Linked DNA regions of Homo sapiens: region 2 is linked to region 1. The links come from fine-mapping of genetic effects on gene expression. Tissue or cell type: whole blood. Region 1 holds a variant in brackets; the other region holds the start of a gene. All regions are shown on one strand. Distances are between the middles of the regions.

Evidence for each region. PIP is the estimated chance that this variant, and not a neighbour inherited with it, causes the effect.
Region 2: it holds the start of ZCCHC24, and the variant in region 1 is fine-mapped to the expression of ZCCHC24 in whole blood (TOPMed, PIP above 0.99).

What each region holds. Positions count from the first base shown.
Region 1 is chr10:79,409,872-79,419,683 of GRCh38, forward strand. The region is part of intron 2 of ZCCHC24 (zinc finger CCHC-type containing 24); the gene reads right to left. Among named protein-coding and RNA genes, the nearest start is that of ZCCHC24, 31 kb to the right of the region's middle. RefSeq lists enhancers at 3,027-3,537, 3,538-4,046. The variant G/A (reference allele first, on the strand shown) is at 5,609.
Region 2 is chr10:79,440,517-79,450,328 of GRCh38, forward strand. ZCCHC24 (zinc finger CCHC-type containing 24) reads right to left here and starts at 5,108. Exons shown (of 4, transcript NM_153367.4): 1 at 4,679-5,108. The coding sequence starts at 4,924. It overlaps LOC105378383 (a long non-coding RNA gene), which reads left to right and starts at 5,725. Exons shown (of 4, transcript XR_946104.4): 1 at 5,725-8,330. RefSeq lists silencers at 4,961-5,020, 5,031-5,540.

The DNA.
Region 1 (9,812 bases):
GGGGCTCTCAAGACAAGCACCCATCTGTGTCCCCCAGAGAAGAGCTGCCCAGCTGGGGGAGGAGGCGGGAGAAGGGAGAGCAAGGCAGGGGATGCGTTCAACCCTGTGCCTCCGCCCCTCCCCTCCCAGCCAACTCTCCCTCTGAGCTGGAGCTGTCAGGAGGCCCATTCTGGCCCTCTTGCTCTTCCTCAAACAAGCCAAGCACATCTGTGCCTCACTCAGAGCCTCTGCACTTGCTGTTCCCTCTGCCAGGAATACCCTTCCCCCAGATGCCCACACCATTTGCTCCTGCTTCATTTGTCTCTACTCAAGTTGTCATGTCCTCAGAGACACCATCCCTGACAACTGTCTTTGAATATGACCTGCCACCATAGCATATCCATTGGTGTCAATTTCTTTACTATTTGTCATCCTGCAAGATTGGGAACTGCATTCTTTCCTCATCTTTCTTGTTCACTATGGAATGTCCCATGCCTGGAGCAGCACCTGGCACATAGTAGGTACTCAATAAATACACGATGACCAGTCAGACAAAAGTAGCATGCTTGAACACTGATCTGGCCTTCTGGGATGTGCTCAGGATGAGCAGAGCCCCATGTTCTGGGAGCATCTGGCCAGCATGGCTGGGGAGGAGTGACGTCACAGTGGAAAGGGCCCTGTGGGGCTGGAGCAGCCTGTGCAAAGGGCTAGACCACGGGAAGCATGGAGGGCTTGAGGCTTGGAGGCCAGGCCAGTCCAGGTCCTAGACCATATCTTAGAGTTAAATATCAGCCCAGGAGTATGGGAAGCCAGGGAAGCGCTGAAAATGCGAAAGTCTGCCTGGCATTGTGAGATCTCTTTGGCTGCTGAGTGGACAGAGGGGTTGGACATGGGGGGACCAGTTAGGGGGGTGCTGCCACATTGCTGGGGAGAGGTGGTGGGGGTGTGGTCTGGGGATGGGTGGCAGAGGGGAGAAGAGTGAGAGACCCCTGAGATGGCAGGAGGTTGAGTCAGCAGCACTTGGGCTAGCCTTGGGGGAGGAGAGCAAGGACTCAAGAGCAACTCCCAGGTGTGTGGCCTCAATCAGCTGCGGGGCTGTGGGGGCTGAGGCAGGAGCTCCCCTCTTGGCCCATGGTTGCCCTGGCTCTGACTGGGGGACAAGGCCAGGGTGGAGCAAGGGAAGGTGATGACGGTGTCTTGTGCCGGCAGTGATGGACGGAAGGAGGACTGGCCGTCACTGGACAGCAGGCAACAGTGATGGATGGCAGCCTCATGATAACTGTTTGCCCTGGCTCCTGTCCTCAGGAATCGCCTATAAACCTGTCATGTGAGCCTGCTCAAGGTGCCCTTGGGGGTATGATCCACCCTAAAGCTGATTTGAAAATCACCTCGGGGCTGGTAAAAAGAGGCCTTGACCTCTGTCTTTAGATTTACAGTCTAATGTGGCCAGGCATCCTGGCATGGTGCTATAATTAAACACACACACACTCCCCTGCAGGTGAGCAAATAGGCTCAGAGCAGGAACCATGTGAACACAGGCCACGGTGGCAGGCCAGGGCTTTCCCCACTGTTCCAAGTTGCCTGCTGGGCCCCAAAACAATTCTTCAGAGCCATGAAGGAGGACTCAACGGAAGGGGTGTTGAGTCTGCAGCGGAAGAAAACCCAGGAGGGAGAGGATGGAACCAGATTCTAGAGGGAAAGGTGGCCCCAGCCTCCCAGGGCTCAGTGTGCCCAGTATATGCACAGAGCAGGACTGCCAAAGTCTCATTCCACTGCCCACGGGTGCCCCACTTTCCAGAGGAGGAGGCCAAGGCCAGGGGACTCCAGCCCACACAGCCTGTGAGAGGCAGGGCCAAGCTCAGGCCTCCTGGGATCCCAGGCCAGTGCTAGGGAGAGTCTGAAGCAACTGTGAGGACAGAAGAAGGGTCAGGAGACCTCCAGGAGGCCTCGGCCCCTCCTGGAGGTGCCATGCTCAGCCCCAGGACCCTGCCATCCCACTCTGAGAAGGTTTCTCAGCCCCAGAGACCTGCTCTGCCAGGGCAGGACCCCCAGCAAGTCCACCGTCCCCAGTCCCTGGAGCACCCCACATGTGCCCCTTACAGAGCCCTGGCTGTCTCTCCTGCCCTTCCCTGGCTCCCAGAAGCCCAGAAGGCCAGAATCTCGCGAGTGGGAGGAACCACGTGGGGAGTCTTGGCTTTTAGAAGCCCTGGAGCAAGGACTTCCTGCTACGCCTCCACAGGGGGCATTGAGCCTGTGCCCTGAACTGGGCCTGGGTGTGCACAGGTCTGCAGCTGCACATGCACACACGCATGCATGCACACAGGGAGCGAGCGGAACGCACCGTGGCATGACCTGCCAACTCCGTTTTAAGTCAACTGACAAGGAAGTGAGTGGCCAAGGCAGACCCATGGCTCCAGAACCCCAAGGGAGGTAGCTCAGGAGCTTCCTGCTAAGCTCTTGGGTCCCCTGGACTTGGCAGCAGCCTGCAGCGGCATGAGCCTCTGTGCGAGTGTGCACAGGTGCATCGGTGAGGGGCGGACATGCCCGTGTACACCCTCGCCCCTTGGCAGCCCCGCGTACGTACATGGTGTGGGTGGCTGTGCAGAGCCCTGTGTGTTCCACCCATCTCCAGGGACTGGGCAGCCACAGGCAGCTCCAGATTTCTAAAAGTGATAAAAATAGCCACATGGAAAATTGGGAGAATCCCACCGAGGGAGGAAAACAGGCAACCACTAGCATCTCTTCTAGAAAATGTCTTTCTATTTCCCTGGCCGTGGACTGCCTGCAGCCACGTAGAGAGATGGCCACCATCCATCATGTGGCCCTGCGTCCCCTCTTCTAGCTGAGTACGAAGTGAAACAGAGCTCTGGCTGTGCGGTCCTGGAGACCTGGGTTTGAATCCCAACTTAGCCATTACTGGCGGCAAGAGCTTCGACAAGTTTCTGAAATGCTCTGAGCCTTGGTTTCCCCCGTGTAAGTAGGGATAATAAGATCGATCAGGCAGGCAGTCGAGAAGCTTTAAGGAGCTCATGAGTACCAAGCACATGGCTGGAATTCAGTTAACAATAGCCACCATCAACATCATCATCACCATTTTCTGGACATCTGCCTAAATCTCAGGTGTCCAAGGCCTTTGGACTCTATCTCCTCTACCAGCCAACCTTCTGAAAGCCCAGGAGAGTCTGCAATCCATCATTTTATCTCTGAAGGATTATATGGAAGTCTACCCAGACACCTTCAACAAACACAAGCCACTCATCCAAAATGGGTTCAGTGCTGAGGGGACCAGTGGGCGGTGGATGTGACCAGCCTCTGCCCCTCCCCTCCCAGCATGCTGGGTTTTCCCCTGGGGTCTCATTTAATCCTCACAGTAACTCTGTCAATTACCATCCACCGGCCCACAGCATGGAGAGGCCCAGAGAGGTGGAGAGACTTTTTCAAGGTCACACAGTGAGTGAGTGGCGGGACCCCTCCCCACGCCTGACTCCAGCCCAGCCTCTGCCTCCTGGCCTCTGAGCCTGATGTGCACTGGCACAAGGCGGGCACCCGTCCTGGGGGAGTGGAACGGAAGACTGTGGTCAGGCAGGCAGGAAACGGCCAGGAGGTCATGCGGGGGCAGGGGGAGCCTCTCCTGGGCCTAGTGAAATCCGCCAGGCTACAGGCTTTAAATGTGTAATCCTGAGTCACCGGGCTGGTCCCTGTCCCCTTGGAGGGACCTGAAAGTCAGCTATAGAAAGCTGATGGTTCTGTGCAGAAAGCCAGACCTGGGCCTGACTAGCTGGAAAGGACCATGCAATGACAACCGGGAGTTCAGGGCCCTGGGTTTGGATGCCAGCTCTATCAGGCATGTCACCTCCTCCTTCTGGGCCTTAGTTTTCCTAGGTGGAAAAAGGGTATATGTGCGTGCGCATGTGTGTGTGTGTGTGTGTGAGAGAGAGAGAGAGAGAGAGAGAGTTTAGGGAGGTGCTTCGGATGTGATAGCCTCTAATGTCTAAGCCAGTCTGACACAGAGAATTCACAGCTTTGCTGTGAGATGGGTGGATACAAGCAGCAATTCGGGGATGTAGCTGTATGTCCACCTGCTGCCCTCCTTGCCGCATGGCCACATGTGCCCCTCACACTTGCTCCACCTTCCAGTCCTCTACAGCCAGTGTTGGAGGAAGAGCCAAAGAAGTGAGAGCTCCGTGGGGTCTCTGTTCTCCCCACCCTCACCCCTTCCACCAAGACAGGCTCTCCAGGCCAAGGAGGTGAGGGGGCACGTGTCCCAGCTTATACGATCACCACCTTGTCTCAAGGAGACAAAGTCTGGGCCCAAGCCTTGGCGGCCAACTGCCCAGATGGAATGACAGGTCACAGAGTTGCTGAATTTAGAATTTTAAAAAATATTAGTGCCACAATAGCTTAAGTTCTTGGAGTCTCTAGAATTTGGGATAATGAATGTGTTGGAATTACAGACATGGAGAATCTTCATTTTAGAGAAGAATAATAACTGCAGTTGGAACACAGAAACACACGGAAGGTTTCAGAAGCACGTACTTGAGGTATACAGAATGATTATAGAATCTCACACTCTTAAAGTCACAAAACCAGAACACTCAAGTGTCAGAATCCTCCATTGTGGGAAGCTTCACTTCTCAGAATAATAAAGCTGCAGTCACATGACCTAGGGAATCTGAGGTTGAACATCTGGAACCTCTGGATATCTAGAACCTCTGGAATGTTCATTTGGGAGTCTCCCGGAACCTTGTAATCTTGCATTCCCAGGACCTCAGGAGGATAATTGTGGTTATGATCACCTGCAGCCACCACAGCTGCCAGAGCACCCCACCATCTCAGACCTGGCAATGGTGCTTTTGCCCAGCTGCACGTCAGAATTACCTGGGGAGCTAGGAATATGCCCTTGGCCAGGCCCACCCTGGATCTACTGAATTCAAATTTCTAGCACCAAAAACCAAACCAAAACCAAAAAAAACCCAGGTGGTTCTAATGTGAAGCCCGAGATGGAATCACTGATCTTGTCTAACCTCTCCTCCATATTACACATAGGGAAACAGAGACTGCAAGTAACTGGCCTAAGGATACACAGCACTGGTCCCCAGGCTCTTCATCAATGTCAGGCCTCCCAAGCCTCTACTTGCTTCCTCTACCTGGACCCCTTGGGTCCAGGTTTCCTGTCCCTGACTCACCGCATCTGTCTCAGAGGACTTCTGCCCCTGGGGTATTCCTAATGATCTTGGGTACCATGAAGGCTAAGACACAGTGAGACACACTGAGTTGCTAGGCTCACAAAGCCAGCCCCTCCCGTCCTCCCATTGACATGCTCAAAACCTCCAGGCTGCTTCAAGGGAGGTTGCTAAGGTCATCAAGGTCACTCCCCAGCCTCCAGGAAGGCCTGCAATGAAGAGGGGCCCCAGGCACAGGGAATCAGAACCCAGGGCTCCTTGCTATGTGACCTTAGGTGAGTCCCTTGGCCCCTTGAAGTCAAAATGGTCTCAGGGCAGGACGGTGGGCAGAGGGCCTCTGGGAATCCGTTCCAGCTCTGCCTCTTGACCTCACACACACTGGCCACACATTTAAGGGGATGGAGTCTTCAGTGTCCTTGGCTGGCTTGCTCCTGATCAGTTGGGAC[G/A]TTGCTTCTTATTTCTAACCTGGAATATTCCAACTGCGGTTTCAACCTTTTGCCTTCCTGGGTGAAGGTGGAGAATATCTGGTACAAATGCCCTTTGTTCAGAAGAAACCCCTAGCCCTACTGAGCCCAGGCTGAGGGTACCCCCTCACTCCTCCCTGCACCCTCTCCCAGGTCTGAAAGGCCTTGTTGATTCTGGTGGCAGCTGCACTCCCAACAAATGGTCTCATCAGAGGTTGTTGGAGTGACAGAGGCTGTTAGAGCCTCTGCCCAACTTCAGCTTAATTCTGATGCACTCATATCTCCTAGGCAGTTGAGCAGGGCAGGGGTCTGGCTGGGCCACAGCATTTTCTCCAACGAGATGGGAATTTCCTGCCAAGAACCCCTTGTAGGCTATGGAAAGAAGGCCCAAGAGGCAGCCTCCGGGAATGGGGAACTGAGAAGCAAGAAATTCCTAGACCAGTGTTTCCCATGGGTGATGGGGGAAGCTTGTGAAAATGCAGACTCTGACCCAGCAGGACTGGGGTGGAGCCTGAGGACCCGGGCTGCGCATTTTTGATAAGCTCCAGGTACTGCCACTGCTGCCGGTCCACTGACCACACTTTTAGGCAAAGCCTTTAGATGTTCATAAATAAAAGTATTTTTATTCCTACAAAGCTCTTAACTTTTGTTCAGCTTGGCTTTCGTCATTTCCAGCTTTGTTAGCTCATAAGACCTACACGGCAGCCTAGAGGGACAGGATGCATATTGCTGGGTCCACTGCACAGAAGGGGAAATTGAGGTGTGGCAAGGGCAATGGGCTTATTCAAGGTCGCCCACTTGGCTCTGCTCCTTCCTCTAAACTCCTCACCTATGGCTGGTTAGAACCAAACGCGTTGGTAATGAGTGGCCTCACTGAGTAATTCCTTGTCTTGCCTCCAACTCAGCTATGTGGTCCAAGGCTGCTGGGGGTGTCCAGGGGGCCCTTGATGAACTGTGCTGGCTCTCTGAGGCCTGAGCTGGTGGGATAAGGTGGGGAGGAGGGGATTAGAAATCACCCAGGGCTCAAATCCCAGCCATGCCCTTGGCTCCTGTGTGACTCTGGGCGAATCCCTTGACGTCTCTGAAGACATCAGTGATGTGCTGGTACATGGAGGATGCTCAGTCAACATTAGCTCCCTGCCTTTCTTTCCTCCTCCACATCCTGAGTCTTGTTCATTTCTTCCTTTTTTTGCACATATTTATGACAGCACAGCCTCTGAAGCAAGACTGCTGGGGAACATGTCCAAGCTGTGTGACCCTCGGCAAGTCACTTAGCCTCTCTGTGCCTCAGTTTCCTCCTCTGTGCAATGGGGATAAGAAGAGTGTCCAGCACAAGGGCCATGAGAAGATTAGAGGAGTCAATGGGTGAAAAGTGCTCAGAGCAGTGCCCGGAACACAGTGAGCGCTCCCTGTGCGTGTAGCTGCTGTGCTGTTAATATGTTTCCCTTATGACGGGGCCCTGCTCAGAGTGGGCACCACGGCAGACACTGTGGATGGCGCACTGAAGCCACAGCAACGCAATGGCTCACACTTGCTGAGCACTCACTATGTGCCAGGTGCTGCGCTAAGTGATTTTCTGCCAGCCTTCCCCCTCCCCGGGATCACAATCAAAAGAGAATACAAAATACTAAGCCGTTTGTGCAGGGTGTTTTGGGAACACAGAGGGAGGACTGATGCATGGGGAGGGCTCAGAGGGCCTGCGGGAGGGAGGGGCACAAGGCTCTGTTTGAGCTTCACAGTCCCCAGGAAGGAGCAGAGGAGCATGGGCCCCTGTTGGGTTTTACCCCTTGTCATCATGCCTACTGCTTTGGGGGCACCCCTCCACCTCACCATCACCCCAACCTGTCAGGGAGAGACCTGTGGCTCCCACACAGCCAGGGAACTTGGAGGAAGCCAGGCAGGGAGGAAGGCCTGGGTTCACAGTGCCTCCTGCAGCCTGATTTCTGCCAGGGCTGGAGATCAGCAGGTCTACAGCATGTCCTAGAGGATGGACCCCCATCCGTTGTTGTGGGCAGAGGGAGCAGTGGGAAAGGCACGGCCTAAGGTCAGACTGACTTGGCCTGATCCTAACCAGCTGTGGGACCAGGGGCAAGTTATGTAATCTGTTACAAAAGAAAAGAGGAAGAAAGGATGAGAGACAGAGATGAAGAAAGAGAAGAAGAGTGGGCACATGGGCCACAGATGACATCCAGGTGAGTGTAAGAACCCAGCCAGCAAATGAGACGAAGGTGCTCCGTGAGCCAGGCATGAGGAAGGCCTGATGTCCTCGGGCTCCTCACCCCCATTCCATGCACATTTCTTCCCTGCACCTGCTGCCCCGTTTCTCTGAGCCCTGAGCCTTGGAATGGGAGGGAGTGGGGGCGGTGTGTTGAGGAGCCATGTCTCCAAGTCAGGCCAGGTCAGTGGTGCCAAGTCCTCTAACCCACAGGCTGGGATCTGGCCACCTTGCCCCAGCTGGGCCACCTCCCACTCCACACAAAGCCACTGGGAGCAGGAGGCACCCAACACAGGCTCCACCCTGGGCAGCCACCCCAGACATGGTGGAAAGGGAAAATGCTGCCCTCACAAATATGCCTCCAAGACCCCATGGCAGTTGAGGCAGGGGTCAGCTCACAGCAGCCACCAAGGCCTAAACACCCTCGCTCGCACACCTCTGATCATCTCAGCAAATGTGGCTGCTCGCTGGGCAGTGGAGCAAATGGTATAACTTCACAGTTCTCAAAGCGCGTTCACCTGTCTGATCGCCTCTGGATCTCACAGAAGCCCTGAGAGACAGGCTTCATTGCTGATGCCACTTCATGCATGGGGGTGTGGGGGCCCAAGGGTAAGGTCAACTTGGCCAATGTTGAACAGCTAGAGAGACAGCCCTGGGATGAGAGCTCGGGCCTTCTGACCCCAAGGCCATGCTCCCTCTGCCTGCCAGGCAGACACAGACCTCGCCTGGGAAGTGACCTCAGGAAGTAGGAGACAGACTTGTGCCAGGACCGGCCCTGGGCTAGGCACGACTCACCAAGGCAGGAGCACATGGGGCATAGAAGGGCATAGGGGCTGCACCATGCAAGAGGACGTGTTTGGGCTGAACCTGGGGGAGATGAGAGAGTCACTGGCTAAGGCCATAGCACAGGTGGAGTGGGGATGAGAAGGCTGAGCAGAGGTCAAACGGCCCAGGCTGGGCTACCTTCCAGGACTGGGGCAGGGCAGAGTGAAGCCCACCCAAAGAGGGGCATTCTCTGTCCCCTAGGGGCCAGATGGGGATGGGGGAAAGATGAGAAACCTGGTTGAGATTTCTTACCTCTTGAGGGCCTTAAAACCAGGTTCTGGGGAAGGGGTGCTGTCCTGACAAGTTAGGGTTCAGAGAGGAGAGCTCTGAGGCCCTGGATGGTTGGGGAAGACTCCCTGAGAGAGGTGGGCTCAAGCTGGGCTCTGAAAGGGGGATAGGAGAGAAGAGATTCGGGAAAGGCATTGCAGACTCGGGGACAGTGTGAGCAAGGCCTTGAGGCTGAGAAGCCCAAGGGGTGTGTGCATGCACGCACGTTTGCATGTGTGCACATATGTGTCTGCGTGCATGCATGAAATTAAGCAGCTGCAGGGGTGGGTCAGGGAGAAGGAGAGGGGCTCCGGTGGGTGTTGCTTCCCAGGTATCCGGGCTGCTTCTCATCTCCCTCACACCAACCCTCCCATCAGGTACATGAGCCTCACTTTACAAATGAGGGCAGATCTGGCTCAGGAAGCCCCACGGCCTAACAAGTGATACCAACAGTGAGGGCTGCCACTTACTTACTGAGTGCTTGTGGGATGCCAAGCCCTGCATTAGACGCTTTCCACACACACTCTGCAAGGATGGTGAACCCATTTTACAGATGCCTGGGAGAAGGTGGGCAACACGGCGAAGGACACACAGCTGGGAAAGAGCAAAAGTGAACTCTGAGTCCAGCTCAGTGAGACTCCGCTGCCTGGGGCTCTCCTGTTCTTACTGAGGTTGAGGGACCAAGGGATGTCCCAGCCAGAACCTTCCCCGGAGTCTTCACAGCAAAGGGCACTTGAGTTACTCCAAGACAAAGGAAAGCCATGTGAGAGGGGCAGGCCAAGGGCCTGGCACACTGGAGGCCCTTGGCAGGTGAGGAATAAATGAGTGAGTGAGTGAGCCTTTCTGGCATTCAGAGGAGGCCAGTCCCTCTGAGCTTGG
Region 2 (9,812 bases), 31 kb after region 1:
CCAGAGGCTGATCCAGGGGAGAGCAAATCTGGGGACCAATTGCAGGACGGGTCGCAGATGCAACCCGTAGCTGGAACACAGAAGAATTCTAGATCTAGCTCTCCCACTGACTGGCTAGGTGACTTGCCAGGCCTCTGTGTCCTCTTCTGCAAAAAATGGAAGCTATGAGGAAAGAGAGGCCATGAATAGAGCACCACCCAAGAGCAGAGGACTGTTCCACTAGGGCCATCTCCTCCCGGAGCCCTCCTCTGGGTACTGACAGCATCTGGCTCCCTGCTGCTGCCACTTACTGATTACTAATGCTGTCTGCTTTCCTCCCTCCCACCTGACTCAGAAGGTCCACGAGGTGTGGTCTTCCCTCTGAGTCCATGCCTGTCCAGTCAACGTAATCTGACAGAGGGAGGGTCAGGTTGCCTCAGCCAACAGCTTCTCAAATGACGGTCCTCCTTGCCTGAGTCACACTTCAGCTTCCCAAGGGTGGCCAAGAGAGCTGGGAGCATCCTCCCGAACTCTGGGCTGGGATAGAATGGCCATTACTCTCAGGCCCTGGAGCTGCCCCCTAAACACACACACACACACACACACACACACACACACACACCACAAAGGCTGCTGGGAACCCACCTGAGCTCCTTAAGCCCACTCTCGAACATAGGCACCTCATATTCTTGGGCAGAAATGTGGCTTTGTTCCACACATCCACACTGGTCAGGCAGCCCGTGGGCTTATCTCCGTCTGTTGAGGGCACATCCAAACCCTCGGAAAACTGTCAAGACTGGGGCCTTTTAAAGGAGGACACTGTATGTACTCCTCTAAGGGTTTTAATGGCCATGTCCATACAGAAGGGCTGGGCCCAGGGAAAGGCCATTTGTTAAGCCTTGTGACACCCTTGCTACTGTTCTCAAACCTCCAATGGGTAGACCTGAGCAGCAAAGAGGAGGTTCATTGCTGCAGAGGCTGATGCTCTAGGAAGAGCTTCCTAAAGGTTGGAACTATCCAACAATGAAGAGGTTTTCCAGGAAGGACACTGACAGGTGTCCTGAGCCAAAAATGTTCTCTGCTCAAATAGGTGTGGGAACTGTCAAGCTGAAGAAAGGTTAACAGGTTTTGCACTGCAGGAGTTCTCAGGGCCTTTCCTGTGCTAGTGGGCACTGTGTGTTTCCAAGGGAAAGGAAGGACACTGTGTCTTCCAAATGTATTTGACCACAAAGTCCCTCCCCCAACATTCACAAAGTGGGGGTCTCTTGACAGTAGGGCCACACCTTCCAGCTACGTCTGTCCCTGGAGAAAGAGGGAAAGAGAACAGCTGCCCTAAGAATTCTACCTGAATGGAGTGAGACAGCCACATCTCCCTGGAGGCTGGAGGGTACAGGGACTACCTGGCAGGGGCTCTGGGCAGCCCTTCAAGGGGCCCAAGAGGCCATCTTCACAAGGAGGTAACTCAGCTTTTCCAGAAATGACTCCCATAGCCCCTTTACGGTTGTGAATTTAAGTTCCAAACAAGACTTGGCAGGGAAGACCCCATGCAGCCCAGCCCCTACTCCATCTAAGAACTGCCTTCCTTGGGTACCTGGAGAGAGAGAAGGGGCTCAGCCAAGGGCCTTAGGAATCCCTTTCCAAAAATGTATCGTTGTTGCCGTAGATCAGGTTTTTGAAACTGGGTTTCACGGGGCCTAGTTTGTAGACCCAGAAGCCTTTTAAGAAACTGTGCAAGGTGCTTGTGTCCGCTTTGGCCTGGCACCCTCACCACAAGCTGGGAAGTCCCCACAAGAATCCAAGTCACCTCCTGGTGCTTGCTCCTGCACCAGGAACTCTGGTGTGAACTCTGCCATCTCTCTCTCTGCTCTCAGGGCCAGTGTGCCACTCAGAACCGTTGGCTTATCTTCAGCTTCCAGAGCTGAGGTTCCAGGGGCACAATGGGCTTCTGTGCCCCCATGTCCTCACCCCCCCTCAAATCCCAGCTGCATTCATGGTGTTTTGCTATTGTGGTGGGAGCAGCCTGGGGGTGGTGCAGGAGGGGGTGGGCTCTTGGCACAGGGGTTGGCGCAGACAGGCCGTGGTCAGTGGTCAGCATGCAAGTCACATCCGCAGGCACTGCCACTGGGCCTGCCAGGCCTCGCACAGAATGGTGATGCTCCTGGGCCCCCTGGGTCCCTCCGTAGAGTCCCCTCCGGCCCACACACGACTTGCTTCCTCTCCGACCAGCCCCTTGGTGGCATTGGGGTGGGGGGTATTTTTTCTTGCCTTCTCAGCCAGTTGCTATTTTGGAGCCATATTAGGTCACCAGCTAAGCCCTGGGCGCAGGAAAGGCCTGTCCTCAGGAACACAGCTGAGGCTTTGAGAGGGTTTAGGAGGCAAAGTGGGTGGGGGGTGAGGATGAGTGAGCCTGAAGCCAAGAGAGCCTTCCGGAAGTCAGCAGGCACAGCCCTCCATCACCTCCGAGGAAGCCACTGGCCTGTGAACATCAGAGAAGCCCCTCTTGACTCCCCCAGCCCTCTCTTGTTTGAACAGGTCTCAAATACTATAGATATACCATCCTGGGGTGTAGCAGAGACTAAATTTAACAGATAGGTAAGCTAAGGCCCAGAGAGAGACGGGGTTCCCTGAAGTCAGGTTGTGAAAGACATTTCCCCACCACTGCACTATACAGTATAACCTTTTCCTGCTCCTTTCACACTGTGTGACTTTATGGGGAAACTGAGGTACGCAGCAATGAAGTGACAGAGGGCAGTTCTCACTGAGCTCCGGTTGGGATCCTGGATGCCAGAAATTTTCAAAAAGCAGCACAACATCCTATTCTTATAGGGTACTCTTGATGGTTCCAAACTCCCAGGTCCTCTCAGGGGAGACCCACAGGTGGGGAACAATGCCACCATGGTAGGGGGAGCAGAGGGAGGCTAGAAGAGGTTGATTAGGGGTCCACACTTGACCTGTGGGTCATGTTCACCCTTCTCCCAGGGTGAGAAACTCCCGTGGGGCTCCCACAAGCACCCCCATCAAATCACCCACCATTCATACCCTCTATCACCTTGTCTGTTTACTCATCCGTGGCCCCCACTAGCCTGTGGCTGTGAATCCCCGGGTCCTGCCCAGAGCTCAACAAATGTTTGGTAAGAGAACAAACAACTGAAAAGACGCATGCACCAAAGAAACACCCCACAAACGGTCCTCCAGTCACTGGTCACCTGAAGCCAATTCCCTGAAGAGGCAGAAAAGTCTCTTACAAGAAAGAAAGATCCCCAGCCAAGAACCATTCCTCACGTGGAGAGAATGCTTTACAGTTTACAAAGAGCTTTGGCATAGAAATGCTTTTGCCTGACACCAAAGGGTGCACTTTCAGACTCATCTTCCTCCTCTGCACCCAGCCCCCTCCCACGCCTGTTCTACCCACCCAGGTCAACAGGTCAGCCTGGGTAGTGTTGGCCTTGGGCCAGCATTTTATATGTCCATGCCTCCCCTAGTAAATAATGGCAGAGTTGAACTCAAGGGCGACCCTCTGCCTCCCTCTCTTACCCCCAGCACACCCTTGCGTACATAGGCTTTCCTCCCCAACCCATTCAGGACTCTGACTCTCCTAAAACTCACCGGTGTGCCCAGGTCTGGAAGGAAAGTGACCCCCATGTGTGTCCTCCCCCGAACACACCTCTTGCATCTTTGCAGAGAAAACCCCCACAAGGGGAGGAAGTGAAGGCCACAGATGGGTGTCTGAAATTCCCAAATGAGGCAGGAGTAAATGGAGGGAGGGGAGGAGTCCAGCCCACGGAAAGGAGTGGTATCTGGGCAGGCCCTGGAGACTCTTCAAAAAGGGCTGGGAGGTGGTGGCGATCTGTGTATTTATCTTGCTGGCAAAGAGGCGCTGCCCAGTCAACTTTGTAACTGAATCCACCAAACAGGCAGACTTTGCAACACAGCCGGCCCAGGTTTCTGCAGAAGGCGCTGGGCAGCTGGAACCTCTCCCCCCCCCTTTCTAGCCCCCCTCCCAAGAGCTCAAGAGGATTTCCCTTTCATTTCCTTCGAGGCTGGGAGGGCTGGGGACAGCGCAGTCTGTGGGGTCAAGCCCTCAGAAACCACTTCCTATGTGGCTGGGGGAGGGCGAGCAGCTGGAGGACGTATCTGGGGTCCCCGAGTGAGAACAGCAGGAGAAGCCCTCTGGGCAGTCACTGCTCTCCAGGGTGCCTTTCGGGTCGGGAACCGCAGAGGTCGGAGAAAAGATTTTAGGCCCTTCCAGAGGAGCTCCGAGCAGAATCTGCACTCTCGGTCCCAGCCCGCGGTGGCCAGGACGAGGATAAGGTTGGGCGTGAGAAGGACACTTCGAAGGGGCTCCCCGCCCAGGCCGCACCCCAGCTGTCTGAAGAAAATCCGGAGACAACCCCTCCTCAACTCCCTCCCCCAACCCCTTTGGAGCAGGGCTGCCCTGGCAGGGAGAGGGGGCGGGAGAGCTCCGCCCCGGCCTGCATTGCTCCAGCCCGGGCTCAGCCGGGAGGTGACGCGCACCCGGCACCCCGGGGACTTCGGGCGGCGAGTTTGGCAGAGTTGAACGAAGCCAAGCCAAGCCGGGCCCGGCAATGCGGAGCCGGGCCGCGCCAGGCCAGGAAGAGCGGGTCAGACAGGGAACGGCCCGCCACGGTGGGGCGGTGGGGCGGTGGGGCGGTGGGCGGGGGCGCGCGGGGGCACCCACCTCTCCGCGCTGCAGCTGGAAGAAGCTGTTGAGATAGCTGGAGTGCAGGGGCGAGCCCAGCTGCTCGGGGCGGCCCTTGCCGAAGGCCAGCTCCGGGGGTGCGGCGCCGGCGGTCGGCTCGGGCCGGAAGGCATCGAAGGCGCTAGCCTGGTGCGTGTCCTGCAGCGACAGGTAGACCCAGTTGAGCAGCTGGGCGGGCTGGTACACCGAGGCGGCGCTCGTGTCGATGGCCGACAGCAGGCTCATTTTGTGGCGGCGGTGCCGGCCCCTCCCCGGCCGCCCGCTCGCGGCCCCCCTCCGCAGCGGAGGGGCGGGCACCGGGGAGCCTGTGCCCACTGCCCGCCTCCCGAGCCCCGACGGTGATCGCCCCGCGCCCTGCGCCCCGCGCGCTGCCCGCAGCCGCTGCCGCTGCCGCCGCCTCCCCCCGACTGCGGCCCCGGCGCGCGCAGGCGGTGGAAGGAGGCAGCGAAAGTTGGGCAGGAAACTTTTGGCCCCGCCCCTCCGCCCCGCCCACTGCGTCCCGCCCCGCCCGGCGATCCGCTATCTGCCTCGCGGCTGACCCCTCCAGCGGCGGCTCCGGGGGTGGGGTCCACGATGCCCCGCCGCCCACTCCCTGCCCCGCCTGGCACTGTCCTCGCCCTGCATTGGCTGTCTCGTTGAATATGAACCGTCAGGGGTGGGGAGAGAGGGGAGTGAGGCTCATCTGCATATGCAGCACGGCGCGGGCCCGCCCATGCGAGGCCCCGCCCAAGCCCCACCTCGTCCCAGCCCGGCCAACCCAGCTCCCCGAGCTGCCGGGAGCTCAGTGCAGCCCCGGCCTAATCAATTTCGTCTCCCTCTGTCGTCAGCGCTCTTGTCTCGTTCTTTCCAAATCCTCTGCAATTGTTTTTCACTCACTTTTCCTTTCCTATTTTCCCTCCTTTCTCATACTCCTTCTTTCTCTCTCTCTTAGACTAGTACTAGTCTCCTGTGTCCGTCGTCCTTGTATGTGGCGCCCTCCGTGTGTGTGTGTGTGTGTGTGTGTGTGTGTATGTCCTTCTCTTTCTCTCACTCTTCTTGTCTCCTTTCTTCTATTTCCGTCTGGTCTGATGTTTCTCCCTGTCTCTCCCGCTCCTCTCTCAGACGCGTGTACACAGACGCACACACTTCTAACTCCCTCCTCTCGCTATCACCATCGGACCCTCCCCCTCCTACTTAATTCCTTCCATCTGCAGAATCACTTTGCGGGCCGGCTGCGCCAAGGGGGGCCCGGGTTCCTGCCCCAGGAAAGACTCCCCGCCCCCTCCCCCCCCCCTTCTCCTATTTCTGCTCTGGGCCCGCCTCGCTTCTCGACCCTCTTCCTCCACCCCGGCTCCAGCCCTAGCCCGCCCCGGTGCCTTGGCGAGTCGCCAGGACACCAGCCTGGGCCGGGGGAGCTCGGGAAAGCGGCTGTCACCCATCTCGCTGGGACAACTCAGCTAGTCCAAGACTGCCTGGAGGGAGCCCCGCCCCCGCCTCCGCCTCCGCCTGACGCCCCAGGAAGCCCCGGGGCCTTCACCGTCTCTTTCTCCGGGTGGTCTTTGCTGCGCCAGCACCGGGGACCTAGCCCAGAGGAACTCACCGCCTGGCTGGGACCGAGTCACCTCTCCCACTTTCAGTCTGGCTCTGGAGCCATTCCGCCCAGCGTTGGAGTGCCAGCTTGGCCACCGTCCAGCGGAATGACCTCTGCATGACGCCTAACCTCTGCGAGCAAGCCTGTTTTCTCCTCTGTAAAATGGGAGCAGTCATCCTCCCGCCGCCGGGGACATTTGTGTGCTTCCCAGCTTGGGTTTGGTAAGCGGAAGATATTCCATAAAGGACAGCTCTTCCCCGCCACCCACTCCACGAGTTACTCACATCACCTGCAGGGCACCTAACCACATCTATGGTCGCTCGCACCACGAAGGCCTTCAGTGATGACCAAATGCCACCCTTTTTCACCAACCAAGAGGCCCTTGGATCTCAGATCTCCATCTTGTCTATCAATTTGCAGTTATTAATACAAACGACAGCATATGTATCAATCATGTCTTCATATTTTCATTCATCAAGAACACATCTATACAGTACCCTTTATATTTTTAAACAGTATTAAACCTATTTGTTTAAAGAGTAGGTACACGGTTCTTGCAAATGGCTCACCTGTAATCCCAGCACTTTGGGAGGCCAAGGCAGACAGACTGCTTGAGCCCAGGAGTTCCAGACAAGCCCTGGAAACATGGCAAAACCTCATCTCTACAAAAAAATGCAAAAATTAGCCGGGCGTAGTGGCGCATGCCTGTGGTCCCAGTTACTCAGGAGGCTGAGGTGGAAGGATCACTTGAGCCCAGGAGGTGGAAGCTGCAGTGAGTCGAGATCATGCCACTGCACTCCAGCCTGGGCAACAGAGTGAAACTTTGTACCCCCCGCCCCCACACCAAAAGAAATAGTTGGGATTATCTCTGGAACTCTGCTGCTGTCTTTGAGCTTCCAAGGATGGAGGTAGGATTTGGAACCACTGATAAGACCTTCCCTAGATTTTATAGAGAAAACTGCTGTTCAGGGAGGGGACATAACTAGGAATCTGACACCTGCTTAGAGAAACCTCTGATCCTTCCCTGTGTCCTTCAGAGTGATTTGATGCCAAGAAGGTGTTTATCATGCCTGGTGACCACATTGATGGCCTCTGCCTCTTTCTCCCCAACATAGTTTCTACCCAGAGCCTGGAGCATAGATAGTAAATAATCAGGAAATAGTTGCTGGGTTGATGATTGAATGAATAGGTGGAGAGACGCATGGATGCCCAGATTTTGCTCCTCTTTGAAGCCTGAGCGGCTTCTTTGGTTTTGTACTTTTCTCCCTCTCCTTGCCCACAGGACAGCTGCTCAACATGTGGGCTCTGTACCCAGTAGGTGACTAATAAATATGAGCATCCTATAGGCAGTTTGCCTGGATGGCAACTGATTGACCTAAGGTCAGCCCTCAGCCAGCTGCTGGGAATGCATGCTCCAGGATCCCCTGAAACAACATGTACGGTGGGAGAGGGTAATAGGTGAGAGTGACCAGATGGGTATCAGAGGCCTAGGTACCAGGCCAGAAGACCGGGCCACGCCCAAACTCTGCACCTTCTTGCCCTATCATGTGCACACTAAGGAACTCTGCATTTAAAATGTCAGAGGTTCCAAGCCCTCACTTTACAAAGGAGGAGGTACCATGGCCCAGAGAAGGAAAAGAACCATCCCAGGGTCTCTCAGTAAACCTGATAGCTAAGCCACCTGCTCCTAACCCACTACTACCTCCCAGCTCTCTCTTCATTGATCCCAGTGTGGCAGCATTCAGGTGTGGCAGCTCTGGCCCCATATACTGTCCTCAGACTGGAAGGCAGGAGGGAGCACCCAGGTGAGGCTCACATCCCTGTCCCCTTCCCTGTCCAGTGGCTCCAGCCATCCCACAGTCTCCAGAATGGGTCAGTGGAATGAACACAAGATTTGGAGGAAAGACCTGGCCCAGTGACCTTGGGTAGGCCTGCCCTCTCTGTAAACCTCAGTTTTTCCAGGTATCAGATGGGAATGTTGATCCCATCCTTACCAACTTCTACAGTGACTGACAGGATCCAAGGAGGATGCAAAGAGGAAGGAGCTTTGCTGTTCCCTGAGTGAGTAGGCAGTCATGCGTGACGGGAGGGTGATATTGATACTTGCAGTAACAGTAATATTCAATTTATCTGGAGAAATGTGGGCAGGAGGGGACAAGTAGGAAAAAGTCTGCTCCTAAAGTTGCCCAGGTAACAGGTCTGATAAGTGTTTGGTGGAGTATCAAACCAAGAGCCTTGAGCTCAGAGAAGCAGGAGAAACCTGGGCAAGAAGAGGAAGCAGTTGGTCTTTATGAGGGAGTCAGCCTTCAAATTCAGCCCAGGAGGCAAGCAGAGATGAGCAGGGGCAGAAGATGGGGCTTCACAATCCTGTGCAAATTGATGCTTCTCATTTCTGTAAAAAACGCCCCATGGTGATTTATCAGGTGAAGGAACCCCTAACCCTCTTCAAACCACCCACACTCCATGTGTCAGGAATAAATAGCAAAGCACACACTGACAAAGCTAAGATTTGCCTCTCCTTTAGGCCAGGGCTGGGCATTGGGTTCCTTTGGACTGTGTGTTGACACAGAAGGTGTCAGTTTACAGCAGAGATGGCAAAATGGCAAATACTCTCCTTACAGGCACCACTGCCCCATCCCCCACCCAGGACAGACCTCTCTGAGTGCGGATCCCCTTCCCAGGCAAGACTTCAGGTTCCTGCTCAATACAGCACCCCACGTCACCACTAATGAGATGCTGGAATTGGCCCTGAAGACGCAAATTATTTGCCATGTTAACTTTATATCCACCTTCCCAGGCTGCTCTCTAAACCCTATGGTGACTGTGCAGAATTATTAGGTTGGTGCAAAAGTAATTGCTCTTTTTGCCATAGAACCAACCCAGTGAGCTAAAATCCAGGTTTCAAGGCACCTTTACACACACACATACACACACACACACACACACTCTCTCTCTCAAGTCACCTTTACATACACACACACACACACACACACACACAGAGTACCTCCTCCTTCCATGGATGCAGCCCTGCTGTTTACACTAACCAGATTTCAGCCCCAACTAGCCCCCAACTTCTTTGTGCAGTGCACAGATGGCAAAACCATAAGGGCAGTCTGACCACTCCAGGCCCCACCCACAGGCTCTTGAGTAGCCTTTAAGTTTATCTTGAGCAGCAAAGGGTGGGTAGGTCCTTGAATCTTAAACTCAGCCTACCGCTCCTTGCAGGTTCCAAGGTGTGGAAAGTGCCTGGGGCTTTGGAGACTGTCACTTCCTGGGCTGTGTGACACTGACAAGTTGAGTCTCCTCCCCTGGACCATTTCCTAGTGTATAAAATCTTCCCACTGCTGTTGGAATCCCAGATGACACGGGGAGGCAGGAGACACTTTGAGGGCCCTGGCCTCTAGAAGCCCTAAGAGAATGCCTGCTTGGTTTCATGGCTGGACAGTATGACATGGGCATGAGGGGTCCCAGCCTGGGTGTGAGGAGCCTAGGGTTTGTGTGTGGTCTGGGAAAACTGGCAGAACACCCTGGACCTAGAAGTCA